Homo sapiens: one gene and its partners. The protein of the gene in region 4 interacts with the protein of the main gene of each other region in a biochemical or structural test. Each region holds a gene or a part of one and is shown on either strand. Other genes may lie near its edges.

Region 1 (3,026 bases), on a different chromosome or scaffold from region 4:
TTACAGGTGTGAGCCACCACACCCAGCCAGCGAAATGGCTATTTCTAGTGGGAGAGCCAATATCCAAAGATTCGTTTGTATTCATTACAGTTATTACCAAATATATTGGCCCACTTTCTTCCTGAGGTTTTCTTTATTTCCTTGTCAATGTTCAGTGCCATGCTGGCACCTGGGGCTGGAGGGCAGGTATATGAAGCAAGATAGAGTCCATTATTTTTCAAAAAGCCTTCAATATGTGAGAAGGACAGGATTTGCTCCTTAAAGAATTTGAAAACATATTGGCTGGGTGCGGCGGCCCATGCCTGTAATGCTAGCACTTTGGGAGGCCCAGGCAGGTGCTTCACCTGAGGTCAGGAGTTTGAGACCAGCCTGGCCAACGTGGTGAAACCCTGTCTCTACTAAAAATACAAAAATTAGCCAGGCATGGTGGCAGGCGCCTATAATCCCAGCTACTTGGGAGGCTGAGGCAGGAGAATTGCTTGAACCCGGGAGGCGGAGGTTGCAGTGAGCTGAGATTGCACCACTGCACTCCAGCCTGGGCGAAAGAGTGAAACTCCTCAAAGAAAAACAAAACAAAAAGAATTTGAAAACATTATATCAATAAAACAGATAATGGGAAAGTGTTCTTCTGAGCTTGCAGCAAAAGTATTAGAGCAGAAGCTATATGGCTGATCATCAGGGAAGTAGTAGAGCATTTGGATAACAGTCAGAAAATGGGGGTATTTGACTGCAATAAGAACCCTTCTAACACAGGTTATTTAGGAGTCCCATAGATAATTTCCCAGTTTCAATTGCATATAATTGGTTATAAAAAGAGATTATGGCCAGGTGCGGTGGCTCATGCTTGTAATCCCAGCACTTTGGGAGGCCAAGGTGAGTGGATCACTTGAGGTCAGGAGTTTGAGACCAGCCTGGCCAACAAGGTGAAACGCCGTCTCTACTAAAAATACAAAAAAAATTAGCTGGGTGTGATGGCGGGCGCCTGTAGTCCCAGCTTCTCAGGAGGCTGAGGCAGGAGAATCACTGGAACCTGGGAGATGGAGGTTACAGTGAACCAAGATTGCACCACTGCACTCCAGCCTGAGCAGCAGAGCGAGACTCCGTCTCAAAAACAAAACAAAACAGAGATTATAATTAATTACATAACTGAGAGAGAGAAATGTTACAAATTTAGTAGCATGGGTGATTCTGCTTGCATTCTACTCTACAATGTACCTGCTTTTTTTTCAAGAGTCTCATTTCCTAGTTAATTTGCTGAGAGAGAGTTCTATGTAAATTGTAAAATTATTCTTAGTATATAAATTATATTCAGCATACTATTAAATACATTAGTTGTTTATACATACACATTACAATATCATTTTTTGGGTGATTTCTGGGATTTCCAATGACCAGCCCCAGTTTTTCACCTAAAGGCTGACGTTAGAACTTAACCTCTGCAGCCCAGGCGCGGTGGCTCATGCCTGTAATCCCAGCACTTTCTGAGGCCAAGGTGGGTGTATCACTAGGTCAGGAGTTCAAGGCCAGCTTGGCCAAGATGGTGAAACCGCATCTCTACTAAAGATACAAAATAATTAGCCAGGTGTGGTGGCAGGCGCCTGTAACCCCAGCTACTCGGGAGGCTAAGGCAGAGAATTGCTTGAACCTGGGAGGCGGAGGTTGTGGTGAGCTGAGATCGCGCCACTGCACTCCAGCCTGGGCAACACAGGGAGACTCTGTCTCAAAAAAAAAAAAAAAAAAAAAAAAAAGAACTTAACCTCTGCATAAGAGATTTCTATGGGAGCACAGTGACAGAATATGGGATGTGCAAGGATGGATTCAGTGAATTGATGAAGCCAAACTGGGACATGAAGGAGGATGGCATCTGGAGAGCTGTAGAGGGGTGAAGGTGGTCCATGTGGGTGTGTAGGGATTGTGTACTTTCGATGTCCAAAGATCCTGCTGCTCTCCCTGCCTCTTTTCCTCACGTTTCTCTACCACTTTCCCCCACAGAACGTGAAGCTCTTGGAGCAATTTGTCTGCGCCCACACGGGTATCATCTTCTATGCTCCATACACAGGTTAGCCCATCATCCCTGCACCACCAGAGAGCTTTTCCTTGTGGCATGCCTTGTTTATGTAGTTGGCCAATAGGTATTTGTTCAGTGGCTCCTGCTTATAGCCTAAAAGGTCTGGCTGAACCTTTTGGAAATCTTGGCTTGCTGGGGGCTAAAGTAATTAAATGTGGACAAAAGAAAACAACAAATACAGCCAGGCGTGGTGGCTCATGCCTGTAATCCCAGCACTTTGGGAGGCCGAGGCGGCTGGATCACCTGAGGTTGGGAGTTCGAGACCAGCCTGACCAACATGGAGAAACCCTGTGGTGATGCATGCCTGTAATCCCAGCTACTCAGGAGGCGGAGGCAGGAGAGTCGCTTGAACCCAGGAGGCACAGGTTGTGGTGAGCCAACATTGCGCCATTGCACTCCAGCCTGGGCATCAAGTGAAGCTCCATCTCAAAAAAAAAAAAGGAAAAAGAAAAAAACAAGTACTTCTGTAAGCAAACTATCTAAATGTAGTTTTTAATTGATAAACAGTGATTAATTCCTTTCTATAGGGTCTTTTAACTTTTACAAAAGACTTCTCACAAATTGTCACATAAGTTATTTTATATCATTGTCAATTGGATTAGATTTTCCAAACTTGGAATCGTAAATTTAACAATTCAGAATTATATTTATTCCCTAACTACAGTCACAGGGCAAATCTGGCCCACTGTCACGTCCATTTGTTTTCATATTTTCTGCAATTGCTTCCATGCTACAATGGCAGAGTTGAGTAGCTGAGACAGAGACCACAGGACCTGCAGAGTTTAAAATATTTACTATATGACTCTAGACAGAAAAATTTTGCTAACCCCTGCTCTGAAGCAAGACAAATTTGCAGAGAATAATTTTTTGTTGTTTTTTTTTTTTGAGACGAAGTTTCACTCTTGTTGCCCAGGCTGGAGTGCAATGGTGCAATCTTGCCTCACCACAACCTCTGCCT
Region 2 (3,500 bases), on a different chromosome or scaffold from region 4:
CAGATAACCAGGAACACCCGACATTCCCGCCTCCCTCCTGGCAAAATGGTGGAGGCAAAGGACACACCTTAGGGGAATCCCAGCTGGACCCACAGGCGCCAGGGGCAGCTCTGCTGTGGGCTGCATGCTTGCTTATGACGGCGGTGATGATGGTGAGGTATTAATAAAAAGGAGCTTGAAATTCATCTGTTTCAAACATCTCCTTTTACAGGTGAATCAATGAAGTCTTGGGAGATGAAGTGATCTGGCTGATGTCACTCACTGTGAGTGTTGGGCCTGGGATCCGGATGAGACTTTGAGACTCTGGATGCAGAGCTCTTCGTAACTTACTGGAAGCTGACCAGCTCCTCAAAGTCACCTCCCATATACCACTCAGGAGGACAGGGCAGCCTTTCACGTCGGAAGTGGGAGAAGAGCCCCAAAGGTGGCGCTCTGGCTCAGGAATCAAAGGAATTGGGTCCCAGCCGCAGCCCCGGCACCAGCAAGCACAAAAGGCTTATCCTCCCAAGGATGCCCTGGGAGCCTCTGGGGGTCCCGCTGGGCTCCCTCACCTGGGCATGGGCCCTGAGAAGTGCTCCATTTCATCAACTTGGTATCTGCACTTCTTGGTAGGATTTTACCAAATAAAGAGTTCAGAGCTAAGTAAGTTTAAAACCACGGAATACATGGTCCTGCCCAGTACATTTAGCACCCATCATTTTGGCTATGGTGGCCGAGGTCTTGGGGTGCAGGGGTGATGGCTTTGCTTCTGTTCACCAATAGGGGGAGAGAGATACGCACTCTGACGCTGAAGAAGAAAGGGAAGGCCAGGTCAGGCTTTCCCCATCTCTCTTCTCCAACCTGCAGTCAGGTGGAAGTTCAAAGGGCCAGAACCAGAGTGTTCACAGGCCAGGGACGTCACTGGGCACGCACCTCATCTGCCACCCCCATAAGAGGACCAGCATACCCTGTCCTTGTGGGGCAGGGCTGCCATGGCAAGGGAATGCCCATGCAACTGCAAGGCCTGCTGGGAGGAGCTGGGGAGGGGGCTGGTTGGAGGGCGATGAGCAGCCTGCTACCCATTCATCTTACAGCCAGAGGGAAGAGCGATGGCAAGCACCACACTGCCTGGCTGCTTGTCCCCACAGGGCATGCTAACGACTCCCCCTCAGTCCCATGACCTCGCGGCTTCAGGGGTAGCTCAGAGACTTGCAGATGGAAAGACGGGTTTCCATTCTTCCTTCCCAGCACCCATCAAGGCGAAATCTCCCACTCTAGATCAAGGGCCAAGTCATCGAACTTCTCTGGGCCACCACTGTCTCCCTCTCACTTGGCGATGGAATCTGAGGGAACACCTGTAGGTAAAGCCAGGGAAGGGGCTAGGACAGCACAATGGGTTCTAGTCAACAATGGGGCTCTGGCCTTGGCGTGGGGAGGCCTGGGGGTGGCTACCGTGTGTGGCACAAATACCAAGGTGCAGCATCTTAGGGTGGGCTTCTAGTGAAGAAAGAGGGGATGTGGGTGCCTGGAGAGGGAGGGTGAGCACCTCCCCCTACCCGGTGCCAGGTGTAAACTCAATGCCATTGGCTCTGCTAGACTAACTGGAATCATCCACCGAGCATGGTATCACATCTCAACAATCTCCCAGTGCCAGAGTGCGAACCCAGGTCATCTCCAATGGCCTTCTTTCCTCGCTTGCAGACCTGGGTGTTCTATCAGCAGAGCGGCAACCAGGGAAGCTATGGCTCAGTTCTGCTTCCCCAGTTTTGGAAACTCCAGGAACAGGAATGCTAGGAGCTGTAGTCAGGAAGATCCCCCGCCCAACCCACCCATGCCTGCACTGCCCAGGACCTGCTGCAGAGGGATACCAGCAGCTTGCGGCCCTTGCTCTTCCAGAAGCCATTTTAGGCTGAGCAGGGAAGGAAGGAGGGCTCCTCTCCGCCTTGCCACCATCTTAATCCAGAGCCCCATAAAGCAAGACCGCCACTTCGCCACACTTACGCGGCCCCTCTATGTTCTCCTGCTCTCCCTTCCCCTTTCACACACAAATACGCTCCCCACACACTGCAGAACCACTGCCAGCTCTTTCACAACCAGCTTTTCCCATCAAATAGCTGCACGGCCTGAGGGTTGGCGGCCATCTCTCGGGACCCCCACCCTCCACCCACTGTGGACCTCCGAGACCCTGGCCGCAGGTGTTTCATCAGCTCCAGGACGGAACATCCAGGACTGCGAGAAAAGGAGGGAAGTGTGCGATTTGAGGAGCAGGTGAGGGCAACAGCTCGGGTTGGGGAATCTGCATCTCCTACCTCTGCCTCTCAGTCACTCTGTGCCCGCTACTGGCCAGAGTCCTGGGTCCTTGCCCATTCATCACACCCTGGCCCCACAATGCACAATCGCCTCTCCATGGAAGGTGTTTCCTTCAAGAAAAGCGGCCTTCGGTGTTTGTACTGTGAGGCCGACTGTTGTAAAACTCCACGCAGCCAGGATTCTATGTGACTCAGTCAGTTGCACAAACCCAAGTGCAGATGAGGGAAAGCAACTTCTTTCGATACAGGCCCCTCCTTTCCAGACCCAGGAAACTGCCGAGGACCTACCTGTGCTCTGCCCTGTCAACGCCTGAGGCTTAGTGCCTAGCACACCATTTTCATGTGGTTTGGGGGTGTCCTTTCCTAGTCCCTGACCAAAGCTAGTTCAAGGCCCCCAAAACACAGTCTTTATAACTGCCTCTGTATCCCTCTGGGCCTCTGTCCTCAGTCTCTGAATCCCAGGCTCCCTACTCTGGCCCCGGAGCTGGCAGCCAGCCCAAAGATCTGGGCAAGAAGGCCACGGGTGGGGGATGGGATCCCCGGTTTTCGAGAATGGGTCTAGACGGAATCTGGGGATCTGCCCACACCCCGGTAACTCCACCCAGCACCCCTACCCCAATCAGAGATCAGAGAGGAGGAAGGGGCAGTTAGACCCCAAAAGATCTGTTAGTCAAGAGACAGTGTTGAGCAGAGCTCTGGCTATCAACAGCTGGGCAGTGGGGGAGTTTAGGGTCGGGGGTCAGCTGTCCTTGGGCCAGAGAGAAAGAACTGGCTGACCCCTCCCCCACAGTGAATCATGATGAGAGAGGAAGGAGACAGCCGAGCCTGGGAGACAAAATGACAGGTCACTGGAGGACTGACCTCTCGGGCCCGGGCCAGACAGCAGAAGGGAAGGAAGCCAGAGTGACCACTATCCAAAAGGCAGCAGGGGTCCACAGGGGTCCTAAGAACCGCCCCCAGGGCTGCAGGAAGGATAACGGACTCTCCCACCAAGGGGCACAGGGCGCATGTGCACGCCATGAGGCCTGGCCTGCATCCAGGAGAACAGGACTACAGAAAACCAGCAAGGGGAAACCTGTGCCCTAGATGAACAGGCAGGGGGCCGGGAGGACTCCACACTCAAGCCTGCAAGTGCAGAACACACAGGTCCTGCTAGAAACACGTAAGGGCAGCCAGAAAAGGAAAGCCATCATATCCACTTTAGTCGGAACA
Region 3 (4,279 bases), on a different chromosome or scaffold from region 4:
CGGGGCAGAGGAGGCAGAAAAGACGGCTTTGCTGGAGGCTGTCCTTGGGCAGAGCTGGAGGGGGAATCTGGGGGCCGCTGGAGCCAGGAAGATGCGAGGGAAGGGATGGGCGCGATGGGGGAGGGAGATGGGGGGGGTGAACGGTGAGCTCGCGCCTGCATAAGGACAGCAGGCCTCCCCACTGCTATCCTCCTGGCCCAACAGCGAATAGCGTGAGTCAAGAGAATCCCCTCACTCAGACACCCAGGTTCGGGTCCCAACTTTGTCGCCGTGTGACCTTGGGCAAATGACCTCACCTCTGAGCCTCAACGTCTTCTTCTGCAAAATGGGTTAGTGATCCTGACTATGGGGCTGTTGATTCAGGATTCGGCGGGAACGCCCAGCACTTCCTGAGTACACAAGAGTGCTGAGAAAATGGTAGCTGTTTTTTGCGATTACTGACTCGGGGCCCGACCAGCTCTGGCACGACTCAGCGGAGGTGGGAGTCCTGCGGGTCCCATCCCTGCCTCCCGGAGAGCCAGACCCCAGCGATAGAAGGCCCGGGCGTTGCTTGCTCGTCGCCGCTAGTGCCGCCGCGCCCCCTGGCGGCCGTCGGTTGCCATGTCAACGGAGGGTGGCGGGGACCGGGGGAGGCGGAGGCGGGGGCCGTTCTCTCCTCCCAGGGCCGGAGGACGCTCCCTCCGCGCCTCCCGCCTTCGCCTCTGTGGGGGCACTCCGAGCCGGGGAGGAAGGGGCTTTCCGCTGCAGCCGACATGTGGGGGTAAACTGAGGCACGCGGCAGGGCGCCCGCAGCCAGGTGCCGAGCGCGGGGCCCCACCTCCGAAGGCGGAGGAGGGGCCGCGGGCGGTGACGCGCCGAGGGCGGCCGGCGGACAGCGAGCGGGCGGGCGGTGGCGGCGGCGGCAGGTGCGGCCGCGGAGGGTGGGAGGGAGGAGGGCGGGGGCGGGCGGAGGAGGAGGGGAGGGCGAGGCCGGGCACCTCCCCCTTTATAACGCGCCCCCTCCTGGGCTCTCGGGCCGTCTCCTAGTCGGCTCTTCCCGTCTCGCCCCCTCGCCCGGCCGCCCCGGGCCCGGGTCCGGCCAGGGAGCTCCCAGGCCGCGGCTCGGGGGCTGACCCCCCGCCCGCCGCCCCGCGCAGCCCGGCGGAGGCGGCGCCGTCGGAGGAGGAGGAGCAGGGCACTGCGGCTGGCCCCGGATCGGGCGCCAGAGCGGCAGCAGCTTCGGCAGCAGCGGCGGCCCGGGCCCATGCAGCGGGACGCGCCACCCCGAGCCCCAGCTCCGGCGCCCCGGCTCCCCGCGCCCCCGATCGGGGCCGCCGCTAGTAGTGGCGGCGGCGGAGGCGGGGGCAGCGGCGGCGGCGGCGGAGGCGCCTCTGCAGCTCCGGCTCCCCCTGGCCTCTCGGGAACTACAAGTCCCAGGGGGCCTGGCGGTGGGCGGCGGGCGGAAGAGGCGGGGTCGGCGCCGCGAGGCCGGAAGTGGCCGTGGAGGCGGAAGTGGCGCGGCCGCGGAGGGGCCTGGAGTGCGGCGGCGGCGGGACCCGGAGCAGGAGCGGCGGCAGCAGCGACTGGGGGCGGCGGCGGCGCGTTGGAGGCGGCCATGGCAAAGCAGTACGACTCGGTGGAGTGCCCTTTTTGTGATGAAGTTTCCAAATACGAGAAGCTCGCCAAGATCGGCCAAGGCACCTTCGGGTAAGGCTGGGCCCCTCGGGGCCGGGAGCCCTGGGCCTGCACCCCTAGGGCCGACGTCGGGATGCCCGGGCCCCCCCCGAGTTGGTAGAGAAGTCGTCTGTCCCCGGGCTTGCCTGCTGGTCTCTAGGCCGCGCCGCACCCCGCCCCGGCCTGACGGAGCCGGCTGGTGGGGAGGAGCCTGAGGCCCGTGGTGGGGGCGGGGAGGGGCTGCAGAGAGGCGCCCGTGAGGGGAGCGGGATCTCTCCAAGGGACGCCCAAGTGAGGAGAAGGGACTGAGGGAAGGAAGCAGAGGCTCCGAACGAGACAGGCTGCCGGGTGGCGGGGTAGCCGCGTGCCCTGGGTACCTAGCCCAGCCCCGCCCGGGAATCTCTTTGCTGCTGCCCCTCCTCCTGTAGTGGGGGAGGGGCGGGCCCTGCGGAAATGGCCTGATGAGTTCTCGGGTCTCCCTTTCCGCCTGCAGGGAGGTGTTCAAGGCCAGGCACCGCAAGACCGGCCAGAAGGTGGCTCTGAAGAAGGTGCTGATGGAAAACGAGAAGGAGGGGGTGAGTACGGATCGGGCGTGCGGGCCGGCCGGCTAACTGCCCGGGACCCCGGGTCGGTTTTCCACCCTGCTGCTTCTGGGAGTCTCAGGTTGAGATTTAATTTTTTTGTAGTAGTTCAGAAATTTCCAGGGAATGTGGCTTCCACCCTAAAACTAAATGTTTCATTCTTAGGCAGTTATGGGTGAGGCCAGGAGGGGGAGTTGATGCATGCATCGTGTGCACTTTATTTCACGAAGTTAGGAAGCCTTTAAACACCTTTTTTTAGTGTTAAATTTCGCTTAATGTAAAAGAAAGATTATATATGCATGCTTTTTGAAAGGTGTCTGATACTCAATTATTTAATGTATTTAAAAGGAGCGGTCCCTTCTCCACCCCATCTTAGCTCTAGTACAACTTCCCATAAACCTTCTTTTGCGTAATGTGCATTAGCAAGGACATTTTTAAATCATCATGTTTGTTGCCAACGAAACAGCCATAGAGCTGAAATTTGAAGACTGAAACCGCCGAGCGTTTAGTGGCTAATAGCAAAGTATTGCTGTTTCAGTTTGTTGTCTCAAACCATCATCTTGAAGTGTGCATGCTACTAATATCCATTTTATAGACAAGGCTTCTGAGACAGCTGGTTTCAGAGCCCATGATCTTGCTCTGTCTCCCAACTTGGCTGTCAGTACAGACCCCAGGGCTGGGCTCTGTACTGCGCTCACTCTTGACCACTTTCCCCTCTTTCTCACCCAGTTCCCCATTACAGCCTTGCGGGAGATCAAGATCCTTCAGCTTCTAAAACACGAGAATGTGGTCAACTTGATTGAGATTTGTCGAACCAAAGGTAAGTTATTTGGTTCTTACGAGAAGATGACACTTGTAGCCTAAGGTTTTGTTTGTAAACTTGGAACTAGGCACACCTAAACTGCCTCTTCTTAACTCAGATGGACCCATGGTGACTGCTTTTTCTGGTCCTCTTTCATCGTAGCTGGTGCTTCCTCGGGGCCTGCCCTGGCCCAGAAGAGGCACTCAGAAAATATTTGACCGGTGAAGGAAGGAACAGACAGATGCTCTGGAGGGCATGGGTGCCCGTGGGTTGGAGCAGGAAGAAAGAAGCTGGTTGTGGGAAAGTGTGTTGGGTGTGGTTTTCTTGACTTTTTCTTCTTTCTATTCCTGCCTCAGCTTCCCCCTATAACCGCTGCAAGGGTAGTATATACCTGGTGTTCGACTTCTGCGAGCATGACCTTGCTGGGCTGTTGAGCAATGTTTTGGTCAAGTTCACGCTGTCTGAGATCAAGAGGGTGATGCAGATGCTGCTTAACGGCCTCTACTACATCCACAGAAACAAGGTGGGGGCCAGAGCTGGGAGGAGGACCCAGGCTTGGGCTGGTCTTGGCTCCCACTCCCGGGTGGATGTCACTAAAGGACCCACTCTTGCCCTTCCTGCAGATCCTGCATAGGGACATGAAGGCTGCTAATGTGCTTATCACTCGTGATGGGGTCCTGAAGCTGGCAGACTTTGGGCTGGCCCGGGCCTTCAGCCTGGCCAAGAACAGCCAGCCCAACCGCTACACCAACCGTGTGGTGACACTCTGGTACCGGCCCCCGGAGCTGTTGCTCGGTGAGGACTCCCGAGCGGGCCAAGGGGGGTGAGGGCCAGGCATCTACCTGGCCCCTTCCCCCCAACTGCCAGGGCTTCTTGAGCTGCCGGCCCTGGGGCATTGAGCCTCAGGAGGCCCTCGGGCTCAAGGGGCCCTCCTGGTGCGCTCTTCTTCCCAGGGGAGCGGGACTACGGCCCCCCCATTGACCTGTGGGGTGCTGGGTGCATCATGGCAGAGATGTGGACCCGCAGCCCCATCATGCAGGGCAACACGGAGCAGCACCAACTCGCCCTCATCAGTCAGCTCTGCGGCTCCATCACCCCTGAGGTACGGGGCCCCGGTCCCCACGGGGTGCAGAGATCGAGGTCCCCCGGCAGAGGAGGAGTGGGGAGTAGAATGGAAGGAGCGCTCCTCTCTGGAAGGGAGGCTGGTTTGGTGACAGGGCCTGTCTTGGGGTGGGGAGTGTGT
Region 4 (3,500 bases):
TAAATGTGTTTCCAGTGCAGCTATTCTAGTGGCAGTTGTCTCTCTTCTTTGAAACAAGAGGAGGAATATTGTCAAAAAGGAAACCCTTTTTAACAATAGAAAGTAGGTGATGTTTATTGGGATAGAGGATGGGTTAAGAGCAAGGATTAAGAGTCAAACAGATATACCATGTCCGAACTCCATTATCTTGAACATGTTATCTACAATTTTCAAGCCTTAGTTTTCTTACCTGTAAAAGGGACTGACAGTAATTTCTGGATCTTGGAGTTATGTGCAGATTAAATAAATTAATGCATATAAAGCTCTTATTAGAGTCAATGAGTATGTATATTAGGTCTTGCAAACAGAATAATTTTACTTAAGAAATACCCCAGAAAATTTTATCATTGATGTATTTTTTTTTAGGAGAACTTAGGATATCAGTTAAAATGGTTACAATTTTAAATGCATTGTAGTGATTTTGATGTAGTAATGTTTGTTAAAATTCTTATTTTTAAGTACTTTAGCATCAGAAAAGTTGTTTATGCATACATGAAAGCATATATTAATCCCTTTAAAGGAAAAGTTTGTGGTATTTTGTCTAGAAAAGTGTTTTCTTTTTTTAAAATAAATATTTAGTAAAGTGTAATAATAAAGATTAGCTTTGTTCATAAGGTTAGATTGTATTTATGCTGATTATAGCATATGAATAGGACTTTCCATTAAGAAATTGGCTAAGGTGATGTTCATATTGTGACTTAAGGTGAATCAGCTGTTAGAATTTTGGTTTACTTTCTGCATCTTGATTGGTAGTATGGTAGAATGGAAAATGCCTTGGACCTCAAGGCAGGAAACTTTGGTTGTAATTATATTGTAGCTATATGATTTTAGGCAAATTGGTTAATTCTGTGAGTCTCAGTTTGCTCACCTGTAAGGCAGAAATAATGCCTGAATGTGAACCTCATAGGCTTTTTGTTATACATACATATATATGTATATGAAATGTATGATATACATATCTCAAAGAGCTTTGGGATATATTGCTCTTGATAGAACCACTTACTTATTTTTGTGATATGGTGGTTATATTTTAAATAAATACAGTCATGTGTTGCTTAACAATGGGAACACATCTGAGAAATGCATCATTAGGTGATTTCATCGTTGTGTGAACATCATAGCATGTACTTACACAAACCTGGATGGTATAGCCTATGACACACCTATGCTGTGTGGTATATAGCATGTTGCTCCTAGTCTGCAAATGTGTACAGCATGTTACTGTACTGAACATTGTAGGCAATTGTAACACAATGGTAAGTATTTGTATATCTATACATAGAAAAGGTACAGTAGATCATCCATATCCTTACTGATTTTCTTTCTATGTGTTTTACTAATTATTGAGGGAGAAATATGAAGCCTCCAACTATAATTAGAATGGTCCTTTTAAATTCTGTTTTTTATTAATGTATTTTTTATTTTATTTTATTTTGAGATGGAGTCTTGCTCTGTCACCCAGGCTGGAGTGCGTGGCACGATCTCGGCTCACTGCAACCTCTGCCTCCCGGGTCCAAGCGATTCTCCTGTCTCAGCCTCCCGAGTAGCTGGGATTATAGGCATGCGCCACCACACCCGGCTAATTTTTGTATTTTTAGTAGAGACGGGGTTTCACCGTGTTAGTCAGGCTGGTCTCGAACTCCTGACCTCATGATCTGCCCTCGGCCTCCCAAAGTGCTGGCATTACAGGCGTGAGCCACTGTGCCTGGCCTTTATTAGTGTATTTTAAAGCTTTATCCTTGGGTACATACAAGTTTAGAATTTTTATGCCTTTTAGGTAAATTGGTACCTTTATCATTATGTAATGTGCTTTTTTATCCAAATTTATATCTTTTGTTCTGCAGTGTCCACATATCGATTCCACTTTTCTTGTGATCACTCTTTACAATGTGTATCGTTTACCTTCATTTTGATTTTAACCTATTTCTTTTTTATATTTAAATGGATTTTTGTTGTTTTGTAATCAGCATTCATTAAAAATTTTTAGCTGAATACTTTTTACTTTTGTTAGGGTTCCCTGTGTCTCTTCCTTTCATGTTGTGCCACAGATGAGCCATTATTTATATCTTTTCTCTCATTGGAGGTTCCTTTTTTTAGGGGAAATTAAATAATCTGAAATATAAGGAAAGGATATGTTGATTTCAAGAAAGGTTGTTTTTGTTCCTTATCTGGCTTGTTCTTGTTGTGAGGGTGGGAGCAATACTCTTTGCAGCTTTCTGCATTCTAGGAAGAAGTGGAATTTTACACTACCATTTGCTTTCTTTACAGGTTTACCTTGGTATTCAGTGTCTGTCCATAGGACTAATTAAAACTATACCAGACTCCTTCTATTTTAAACCTATCCGTTCAGTCTCAAGTTATCTTTTTGCATTGCCTCTCACGTCTGTCCCTTCATTTCTTTTACCAGCAGTGCTTGGTTTTTACTGTTTGCTTTGGTTTTAATTTCCTTTTTATTTTTTTAATTTCAGAAGGTGGAAGCTTATGTCATTGACTTGAGCATTTTTTATGCATGTTTTAGTGCCTCTTTCTGACTAGTCTCTTCTTTTCTCCATCCAATCCATCCTGTGCCTGATTTTTAGAAAAGACTGGTGTACAGTTTGCCCCTTTTGCTTTAAAATTTATTTTTCATTGTTACAACCCACTCTCAGTAGCCTCCATTGTAACACCCTCCCATGCTCCCACCACCATTATGAAGAAGTAAAGTCCAAACTTTCTCAGTATTTGTAGTTCTTCATGGTCTGTGCTTTAACCTTCCTTCCAGTCTTATTTTTTATTTCCATTGTTGGCCCCCAATGCCTGTGTTCTCTTCCCTTCCATATGAATCTTCCATATGAATATCTTCCATATGAATATGATAGTATTCATATTCATGCGATCTCCCCTTTTTTTGGAATACCCTTCTTTTTTCTTTTAGCCTAAATTCTGTTTTTAAGATGCAGTTAAAGCTTCTCCTTTATGCATATCTCTTATAAGATATATTATTTGCAGACTTTTCCCCCCATTCTGTGAGTTGCCTTTTCACTTTCTTGATGATGTCATTTGCAGCGTAGGATTTTAATTTTGATGAAGTCCAGTTTTCTATTTTTTTTTTGGTGGTGGTTTTTTTTTTGGTTGCTTGGGCTTTTGATGTTGTATCTAAGAAGGCCTTGACTAACCCAAGGTCATGAAGACTTATTCTGTGCTTTCTTCTAAAAGTCATATGGTTTTTAGTTCTTGTCAGTCTTGGGTTTTTTTTTGTTTTTTTTTTTTGAGTTAATTTTTGTGTATGATGTGAGGAAGAGGTCTAACTCCAGTCTTTTGAATGTGGATATCCAGTTGTCTCTGCACCACTTATGGAAAAGACTATTCTTTCTTCATTGAATTGTTTTGGTGCCCTTGATGAAAATCAGTTGACTATAAAAACCAGGGTTTATTTCTGGAGTCTCAGTTCTATTCCATTGCTCTGTATGTTTATTCTTTTT

The links. Proteins that work in one complex are often made in the same cells at the same time.
Region 1: the proteins of RB1 (region 4) and MRPS18B form a complex in vitro, tested with the Homo sapiens proteins (2 studies listed by BioGRID and IntAct).
Region 2: of the proteins of RB1 (region 4) and CCND2, one has a biochemical effect on the other in vitro, tested with the Homo sapiens proteins (4 studies listed by BioGRID).
Region 3: of the proteins of RB1 (region 4) and CDK9, one has a biochemical effect on the other in vitro, tested with the Homo sapiens proteins (4 studies listed by BioGRID, with this or other methods).

Annotation. Positions count from the first base shown.
Region 1 is NC_000006.12:30,620,840-30,623,865, forward strand, and holds part of MRPS18B (small ribosomal subunit protein mS40), read left to right. Parts: intron 1-1,992; coding exon 1,993-2,059; intron 2,060-3,026.
Region 2 is NC_000012.12:4,280,262-4,283,761, reverse strand, and holds part of CCND2 (G1/S-specific cyclin-D2), read right to left. Parts: intron 1-3,500. UniProt on the Homo sapiens protein: Regulatory component of the cyclin D2-CDK4 (DC) complex that phosphorylates and inhibits members of the retinoblastoma (RB) protein family including RB1 and regulates the cell-cycle during G(1)/S transition.
Region 3 is NC_000009.12:127,784,555-127,788,833, forward strand, and holds the start of CDK9 (cyclin-dependent kinase 9), read left to right. Parts: upstream 1-1,479; 5' UTR 1,480-1,594; coding exon 1,595-1,686; intron 1,687-2,146; coding exon 2,147-2,228; intron 2,229-2,963; coding exon 2,964-3,054; intron 3,055-3,392; coding exon 3,393-3,559; intron 3,560-3,659; coding exon 3,660-3,831; intron 3,832-3,989; coding exon 3,990-4,138; intron 4,139-4,279. UniProt on the Homo sapiens protein: Protein kinase involved in the regulation of transcription.
Region 4 is NC_000013.11:48,310,251-48,313,750, forward strand, and holds part of RB1 (retinoblastoma-associated protein), read left to right. Parts: intron 1-3,500. UniProt on the Homo sapiens protein: Tumor suppressor that is a key regulator of the G1/S transition of the cell cycle. The hypophosphorylated form binds transcription regulators of the E2F family, preventing transcription of E2F-responsive genes.